3 separate regions of the Homo sapiens genome follow, and regions 1 and 2 are each reported to be linked to region 3. The links are microRNA targets in miRTarBase. Many come from high-throughput screens and were not tested one by one. Region 3 holds a microRNA gene; each other region holds the end of a gene's coding sequence.
What was found. Region 3 holds the annotated microRNA hsa-miR-383-3p (ACAGCACUGCCUGGUCAGA, at 2,201-2,219, shown strand). A microRNA usually pairs through its seed, bases 2 to 8, with sites in the 3' UTR of a target mRNA and lowers its output. Matches are read on the target gene's strand: a 7mer-m8 pairs with bases 2 to 8, a 7mer-A1 pairs with bases 2 to 7 and ends in A, and an 8mer does both.

Region 1: miRTarBase lists AGTRAP as a target of hsa-miR-383-3p. The part of its 3' UTR that is shown has no 7-base or 8-base seed match.
Region 2: the mRNA of PLD6 is a reported target of hsa-miR-383-3p. Seed matches in the 3' UTR shown: 7mer-m8 at 1,951-1,957, 7mer-m8 at 1,607-1,613 and 7mer-m8 at 1,132-1,138.

What each region holds. Positions count from the first base shown.
Region 1 is chr1:11,749,602-11,752,601 of GRCh38, reverse strand. AGTRAP (angiotensin II receptor associated protein) reads right to left here. Exons shown (of 5, transcript NM_020350.5): 5 at 1,833-2,525. The coding sequence ends at 2,410. Among named protein-coding and RNA genes, the nearest start is that of C1orf167, 11 kb to the left of the region's middle.
Region 2 is chr17:17,200,124-17,203,123 of GRCh38, forward strand. It overlaps PLD6 (phospholipase D family member 6), which reads right to left. Exons shown (of 2, transcript NM_178836.4): 2 at 872-2,975. The coding sequence ends at 2,644. Among named protein-coding and RNA genes, the nearest start is that of PLD6, 4.7 kb to the right of the region's middle.
Region 3 is chr8:14,852,662-14,855,661 of GRCh38, reverse strand. MIR383 (microRNA 383) reads left to right here and starts at 2,152; the gene lies at 2,152-2,224. All of the region lies in intron 1 of SGCZ (sarcoglycan zeta), which reads left to right.

The sequences.
Region 1 (3,000 bases), not on the chromosome of region 3:
CACCGTTTCTGTCTGCCTCTGATGGCCCTCCGGCTCCCGACTGCCTGCACAGTCGGGGGGTGGCACAGTGCCTGCAAATCTAAGCCACCCTCTCCCACTCCCTGAGCAGCTCCTAGCCAATGACTGGAAAGCCTGGCACCCTTGCTTTCATCGCAGGCTCTGCTTCTGGGGTACACTCTGAGACAGGAGCTTTCCTCTGTCCTCTCCCGCAAAGAGCCGGTTCAACCTGGGGGTCTGGGACGATGAGGGACTGAGGTGTCTAGATACACTCCCCTGTGCGTGGCCCAGGCTGCATCATCTGCCCCCACTGCCTGGGCCAAGCCCCTGCCCTGGCTTTTCATTCCCTTTGGGAATCTGACACGTTCACGACGCAGGTACACAAGCCTTCCCGGGGCCAGGATGCTGTATACACAAGATAAACGGACTTGGGTCTTAGTCCCATTCCCCTCGGGTCACGCTCCTCCTCCACCCAGGGTGGCTACAGTCATGAACCTGACAGGTGTCCTTCTAGTCCATGCTTTTCTATTTTACCGCACATACACCCAGGAACAACATATGGCATTGCTGTGAGGTCTGAAAATTCATCCCAATGCCATTCTGCAATCTGCTTTGTTCACATTTGCGGGGGGCCAACGTTGGTGGAAATAGGTCTGGTTTAACAGCTGTAACTGCTGCACTGTGCTCCATACGATGAATGGACCGTGGCTTACTGGTCCGTACTCCCTATAATGAATGGACCGTGGCTTACTGGTCCATACTCCCTACAATGAATGGACTGTGGCTTCCTGGTCCATACTCCCTACAATGAATAGACTGTGGCTTCCTGGTCCATACTCCCTACAATGAATAGACTGTGGCTTCCTGGTCCATACTCCCTGTAATGAATGGACCGTGGCTTACTGGTCCGTCTCCCGACAGTGAGGCTGTTTCCAGTTTCTCACAACTGCAGCTGCTCAGCAGCCCTCTGCCCGGAGCACAGCCCCTTCCCCACAGCAGCCTTCCTCCCTGACCCAGAGGCCCATGTCCTCTTCTTTCGGGGCTCTTGCCTCTGTCTGTAATCCTCCAGGTGGGAAGACTCCTAGGTTGAGAGCAGGCTCCCAAGGTCACCACTGCAGCCCCAAGCCCGCTCGGCACCAGGCAGGTACTGAGCCTCTTTTGATTGACAGATGGACGCAAGAGAATAATGGGAGTTGTGCACTAGGCCTTGACCCTGTGCCAGGGACAAGCCAGGATGGCCTGGGAAAGCCCTGGCACTTGGTGCCCAGGGGGCAGAAGAGCAAGCTGTGAATAGCTAGACCTGTCCGTGGGGTGGGCCGAGGCCCTGGGGAACTTCTGGACGTGTCAGCCCAAGTCAGCTGTGACCAGACACAGGGGCTACCAGGAAGAGGTCGCCCCTGCCTCCTAACCTAGCATCGTCACTGGCCTGAGGAGCAGGTCCACTGCTAACAAGTTCACCATCACTTAGGGAGCCCTCCTCACGCCAGGCACTTCACACCTGGAGCAGGCACCAACCCTTTCTAGAAGACACTGAAGGCATGCAGCTAGTAAGTGGCAGAGCAGGATTCCAAAGAGTGCCTGGGTCATCTGGTTCAGAGAAACGGATGCCCACGCACCACACCCACCAGTGTCTCTCTCTCCTGTGGCCTCTGCTAGGCCAGAGCCAGGCTCAAGCCCAGCTCAGCCAACGCACATGCCTGTTTCCTCCTGCCATGACAGAATGGGGCAGCACAGCACAGGCTCCACCTGGGAACTGGCAGGAGACATCTTCCCAGGAACAAGGCCAGGCCCCAGCCCAGCCAGGAGATTGAAGGTGGTTCAAAACACAGCCCATCTACAGAATTCCCCAAACTTTAATGCTGTGCTCTGAAAAGGGAGGCTGGAGGTTGTGGTGGGACACAGTGTTGCTGACACCTCTGGCCTCCAGCCCTGCATCCCTAGGCACCATGTGACCAGGCAGTGAGAAGGACGGGGCCTCACTCCCATGCCAGACTGCTCCTCGGGCTGAGCAGGACCTGAAGCTCTCAGGGCTTCCACCAAAGCCCAGCAAACTTGGGGGAGGCCTGAGGGGGCATCAGCAGTCCTTAAAGGCCTGAGCTTGCAACACTCAGGCAGGACTCGGCTGAGGGCCTCTGTGGTGCCACCATGGGGTAGGAGGTAAAGAGAGACCCTGGTTCCAGCCTGGGAACCAGTGGGTGCCCTGAAGGGAGGGGAGGCCTCAGGGAGTTCGGGACAGGAGTGTGCATGGTACTGGGCGGCCCATGGGGGCTCCTGGCCTCTTGGTTCAGGCAATCCCTGAGCTGGGGACACATTCCATCTTAGGTCCAAGAGACGGAGGTCAGGAGCATCCCTAGAACGACCTCCCAGGCACGAGGAAGGCCCGGGGCAGGGCCGGGCGCAGCGTGGCTGGCTTCAGTACCCTCGGGCATCTTGACTCCTGCCCTCTGGGACTGCAAAGGGATCTGCGGGCGCCTCTGCTGAGTCAATCGTCTGGTAGGCACTACGGTCCTGAGAAGACCCAAGGAAACCTAGGTGACAGGGGACATGGTGGGAAAGAAAAATGAAGGGTGAGAACTCGGGATGTTCAGCTGAGTCCAACCCAAGATCCACCCCCGCCACCCTCGGGCTGGGCATCCTGACACCATGCACAGAGACAGAGGCAGCAGCCCCAGGCCCTAAACCTTTAGCGTGTATTATTCATTCAATCCTGCCGTATCCCTGTGCGACGGGTATTTTTATTGTCCCCACTTTACAGATGAGGAGACTGTGGGTCAAAGGGATGAAGTGACTTGCCCGAGATCACACAGCTCAAAGCTGATGATGCTGGGACCCACGCCTAGGCAGCCGAGTCCAAAGCCAGGCTCCTGGCCCCTGTGCCATGGGCTTCCCCAGGCAGCACGTGCTTAGGAACCTGGGCAGAGGGACATCAGCCCCGGGCCCACGCACTCCTCTCCAGCTCCCCTCCCAGGTACAAGGACACCACATTACCATATCCAGATGGCC
Region 2 (3,000 bases), not on the chromosome of region 3:
TTCAGGTGACACACACACTACACAACCCCCTCCCCAGCCCTCATCTTCAGCGAGCCCCTGCCTTCTAGCATCACTCGCCTCAGGTGTTGGAGCAGAGGCCGGCGTGCAGTTCTAGGGTCTCCTGGGCATGCCTGCCTGTTACTGGCACAGCAGTCTTTACGTGTGGGCCAAGGATCTTCTATACTTTTAATAACGTCTTCCAAGATCGGGTGTCTGATGAGCAGGCACACCCAGCACAGTTTCAACAAGCAATTTATCCCCCAGTGTGCAGGCTCCTTCCTTACAGGCTGAGTACTATGGGGTTACAATCTTCCCAGACATTGCTTATTGGTTGTTAGGCGGGGGCTTTAGGTATTTTTTTTTTAGGGTTGTCTTGCTGCATTTTGTTACAGCCCACAGTGCATTGCAATCTTAGTCTGCTTAGGGGCTCTTCAAGTATTTGACTTATGACCTAAGTAGCTAGGCCAGCTGGTAGGAAGAGACAAAGCGAGCTATTTTGCAGGCCAGTAAACTTTCATTTTAAACTTTTTTGGTTCGGGTGAGGGCAACCAAGGAAGGGGGAAGGGGGCAGGCGGGGAAGCCGATAAGGCATCGGCTAGCCTGAGGGGCCTAGTACAACCCGTTTCTTCCGTAGTTTGCTGACCGAAGCCGATTCAAGGCACTTTGTCTTAAAAATGGACCACCGTATACCTTATTTCCTTCACCCAAATAACAGCTTAAAGTTTTACTCCTCTTTGAGTCTCCTGTTCTTTGACCAACAGTTTCTAAATAGCTGTATACTGCCCCCCCCCGCAAAATTATATTTAACAAAGAGGAGCCCCTACTTGAATGATTTAGCAGCAAGCTAAGGCAAAGACACCCAGCGCTCACATTCCAGAATAAGAACATGTTTATTCAGATGTGCCAGAAGTCCAGGGTCACGCGGCTTCGCATTTAGGAGATGCTTTACAAGCTCTCCCATTTTCTTTTCAGAACATACACTGGGGGAATTCACAAACTAAAACAATTTCTGGTGACTTCCAATCTATATATTATACTTTACAGCTTCAATTGAATTTTTTTAAAAGTTAACTTCCAAGCTGGCTTGCCTAACACTGTGAGTCAAAAGTAACCCTAAAAAGGAAAAACACACAGCACTGAAGGGTCTCTGGGTGGTAATGCCAGCGTGGGCTGGGGAGGTGAGACTAAGCACATGGCTAGCAGACCTCAGGATGGGCCCTGGGGCTCATCATACAGAAATATGACAAGATGATGAAGTCACAACTTCAGATGTCATCGGAGCTATCTGTATATGACACACACATTATAAACAAATAACCTGGAACATTTCACAGTGTACGACACCTGTTCTACCTGGGAATGCAAACCCTGAGCTGCAAATAAGAACACAGACGTGGGAGACACCACGGCCTGAAGCTGCTCTCCTCTTCCCCGCTCTCCTCTCCTCCGGTCCCGTGATGGGTTACGCTGAGCCAGCAATGTGCACGCACTAACTCCACAGGTGTTAAAGGTAAGGTCACTTCTAAACACACAACAAAATTACCTTAACATTAGGACATTAAAAGTTAAAAGCCCGGCCGGGCATGGCGGCTCACACCTGTAATCCCAGCACTTTGGGAGGCGGAAGTGGTGGATCACTTGAGGTCAGGAGTTTGAGACCAGCCTAACCAACATGGTGAAACCCTGTCTCTACTAAAAATACCAAAAAAAAAATCAGCCAGGTGTTGTGGCAGGCACCTGTAATCCCAGCTACTCGGGAGGCTGAGGCAGGACAATCGTTTGAACCCAGGAGGCAGAGGATGCAGTGAGCCGAGGTTGTGCCACTGCACTCCAGCCTGGGCCACAGAGTGAGACTCCATCTCAAAAAAGATAAATAAATAAATAAATAAAATAAAAAAAGTTAAAAGCCCAACATAGAAACAGCTGCTGGCCATCAGTCCTGACAGACCACAGCACTTACTACCCAAGGACAGGCTGCTGAAGAGCTTGGCACTGGCGTGCATACTGGTTTTAAAGAGCAATTATGCAAGGAATCAAGGGAACAGCCAGCCTTTGGTGGCAATGACGCTCACGGGGTTGCCCCGAAGGCTGCTTTTGCCACCCGCACCGCACACTCACATCTTCCCTTCCTCCTGACTTCCATTTCCTTTCCTTACTCTGAGGACCGAGCCCTGACAGGGGCAGACTGTGAGGGACAAGGAGACTGTAGGCCCCAACCAACCCCAGTCGTGCCACATGGAGAGAGGGATGAAATCTCAGGGAGATGCTGAAAGGGCCCACATCAGCCAAAGCAGGAGGGACTTTTCTAGAATCAGGGAAGGGAATGGGATCGACCTGGAAGAGGCACTGTGCCTTTTCTGTGCTGTAGCAGAAGTTTCGATTCCAAACCAAGATACGGACCACACTCATGAAAGCACCCCGTGGCAGGTCGTGACTGAAGTTATTTTGGCAAAGGAGCAAGAAAAAGGTCTGGCCCGAAATAACTGACCCGAAGTAACAGAAATTTCCCTTTCCTAACCTTCTTTAGTTCAATTTAGTATTCTAATAGACGAGACTTTAGTTTAACGATTTTTTTCTAGTGCCGAGGTCTCCCTCCCTCAGAACGCACAGCAGCCCGCAGGGAGGGCTCAGCCCCATTCTTGGTTAGGTTTGGCTTTCGCTGGAGGTGCCGCAAGTTCTGTGCCATGAAAGCAATCTCCCTCCAGCTCTGGAGACAGGTGGGGCACAGCTTCCGTGACTTTTCTTTGGTGGGAAAAAGGTATACTTTGTAGGGTTAAACTGTTCCCAGATGCGCTCAAATTCTTCCAGAAAAAGCCGCACGTACTCGTCGTCCTCCGTGATGAGAACATTCTCCCTGTTGTTCTGGATGGCTTGCGTGGTCCAGTTGAGCGAGCCAGTGATGAGCACCCTCTTGTCCACGATGGCAAACTTGTGATGCATGTAGCCTGGGTCTTGATCGTGCCGGACCTGGATCCCTGCAGAAAGGACAAGGTGATTTCA
Region 3 (3,000 bases):
ATTTGACCATATGTTTTCTTTAAGTATTTTTGATAACTTTTTAGAGTTGGCCTCAGTCTGTGTTGAAAACAAAATCTACTTGGTGGCTAGAAGGGATGCCTAGAGATGAGAGAACCAGAATTGACCTTCTAGTCAAGGCAGATTTTAAGCTGAACCCCATGACTATAATCTATCCTGCAAGTATGGACACTGTTGAGGGTAAAATGGGGCAATGTTTTGACATGGGAATAGCAAGCATAAATCAGAATGGGCTAGGTATATAGTGAGCACGAAGTACAGAGACTTGATACCCAGATCAAGAATGGAGATGCCGGCTGGGGACAGTGGCTCACGCCTGAAATCCCAGCACTTTGTGAGGCCAAAGCAGGCGGATCACTTGAGGTCAGGAGTTCAAAACCAGCCTGGCCAACATGGTGAAATTCCGTCTCAACTAAAAATACGAAAGTTAGGTGGACATGTTGGCATCCCTTATTCCCAGCTACTCAGGAGACTAAGGCATGAGAATCGCTTGAGCCCAGGAGGCAGAGGTTGCAGTGAGCCAAGATTGTGCCACTGTACTCCAGTTGGGTGACAGAGCAAGACTCCGTCTCTAAATAAATAAATAAATAAATAAAATAATGGAGATGCCTAGGAAGTTGCATCAAAGTTAGATCTTGAGGGAGGTGGGAGAGCATACCAGATAAAGTCGGGAGCGGGATTTCCCAAGAGAGGCCATAGCATGGACCTCTGCATGATTGTTCAGGCCCCTGTGGACATGCTGACATATCTCTGTGAATAGTGGCAGTGCAGCCTTTGATGTCTAGGGTAGCAGAGATTAAAGAGGGCCACTCTCTGCCGGGTTTATATGCCCTGGGAGACTGATCCCAATTGACCTACTCTCTCCTTTCCTCTCTATGAAAATAAAATGATAATAGCAAACTAATTCCTGCTGGTATTCCTGAAATAATCCAACAAAAGTGAAAAAAGAAATCAGAAGGACCAGTAAATCCTTCTTCTCTCTACTGTTTAACACCAAACTATATTACTGTATGTATTCAAAATATCTTATATTTGCAATAATCATATCTACGATGACTATTGAAAAATAATGAAAACCACTGGCTTCCTATTATGAAAACAATATTACACAATGTGAAATTTATTAATTTTATTAATCTAAGAAGTGCCTTAATATTTAGTTGATAACTTATTGACAGTATTTATTGTAAAAATAAATGTGTATATTTTTATCTTTTCTTTCTGCTTTAGATATGTTGTGGAACAATGTTGAGTCTAAATAAACTACAAATTATATATTTTTGATATGTCTATGTATTATCTTATTCAATGAATACAAATTAACTTTTTGTTTTGTGAATTGCGAATGAAATAGTAAAGTGAGTCATTTTGCATATAATGTTGTTAACACCAACTCTGTGTCAAAAGCCCAACATTTACAAGTCAAAAGTTACTGCATTTAAGATGATTACTAAATAGTGAAGATGAGGTAACACAAAAATCAAACTAATAACAATAATGTATTTCAATTTACATTTTGTGACTCTGTGCAAGGAGATATTGTAGCTTTAGACAGAGTATATAAAATTAGAATATATATACAAAAGGATATATATATATATATATATATATATATATATATAATATAATCACATAGAAACTGATGTCGTTACAAAATGAATGACTTAGGAGTAGGCAAATTTCGACCTTTGATATAGGCCTTGAAAGATCCTTGAAAGGTGTGTATTTTGTATTGGCAAGGAGGAAGGAAGGCTTAGGATAAGCTGTAGTCATGTGAAAGCATTGGATATTGGGACTAAATTGGTCTTCTGGTTCATCTGAAGAAAGAACAGAGAAAGGAAAATTCCAACAGTAGTTAGAAAAGCCTTGTTTATTTTTCTCCCTTCCTCTCTCCTTTCCCAAGCGTTTCACTAGGAAAGAAAATAGCTCTTCTATGGTACCCATGTAATACTAATTTCTCAGCGTTGTCATTCTAGGAACTGCCAATGATTGATGACAATCTATTTAGATTCAGTTCTTTAAAGGACAAAGCAAACCACTTCAGTGACTGAATTTTTTTTTAACCTGCAATGTGTATTGTTTGATTATGTTTGCATAATTTATCAAGAGACTTCAGAATCTCCCCGTCACCTGCTCCTCAGATCAGAAGGTGATTGTGGCTTTGGGTGGATATTAATCAGCCACAGCACTGCCTGGTCAGAAAGAGCAAGTGTCCTAGCCTTTACCTCATGAGACCTTGGGTATCCATCCAGCGTAGGTCCCAAGGGAACTGCATTTGGTGGACTGGAGTGGCCAGCATGCTTCAGGTGAGATGAAAAGTGCCATGTTTAACCTGTGTTTGGAAGCTTGTCTTTCTCATAAAATACCTAGTTGTTTCCTCACATGAGCATTTTGATCATTACCTCCTCTTCCCCACTCTTTAACATTTTTATACCATAAAGAGAAAATAACTTGGGATTCCATGCAGACATTTGAAATTCATGGGCAAAATCTTCAAACTGCAAATAGTACAAGTTTTATATGCATGCTTTAATTTGACTTTCTTCAAATATGAATGCTGCTATAATGCACACATGCAAAGGCCGCTATTGGAATATACTTTCTATGTATCCTCAGAAGCAGAGCTGGCCTCTGGCTGGTAAGTGTGGCTGCCTCATCAGCAGTATATATCTGATCATCTCAACAGTGTTTTCCATTCCTAGTAAAGGAAAAGCCCCATAGAAATAGTAACATATGTGTTTAGGAGCTAACGCTTCAGGAGAGTTTAGACGAGGAGATTCTGGGAACAATACCACAGGAATCCAGGAAAGACTTTGATGCAGAGAAAGGCTATTACTCCATGAAACACTACAGATGGGAGGTGAGCCAAAGAAAATTTTTTGTACTTTGCAATGTTTCCTTAATATGGTCCTGCTCCAACATAATGTAATTATACAAGCTGTGGTTGCCAAAAACTAAATATGAACAAAAATGGAAAAGACA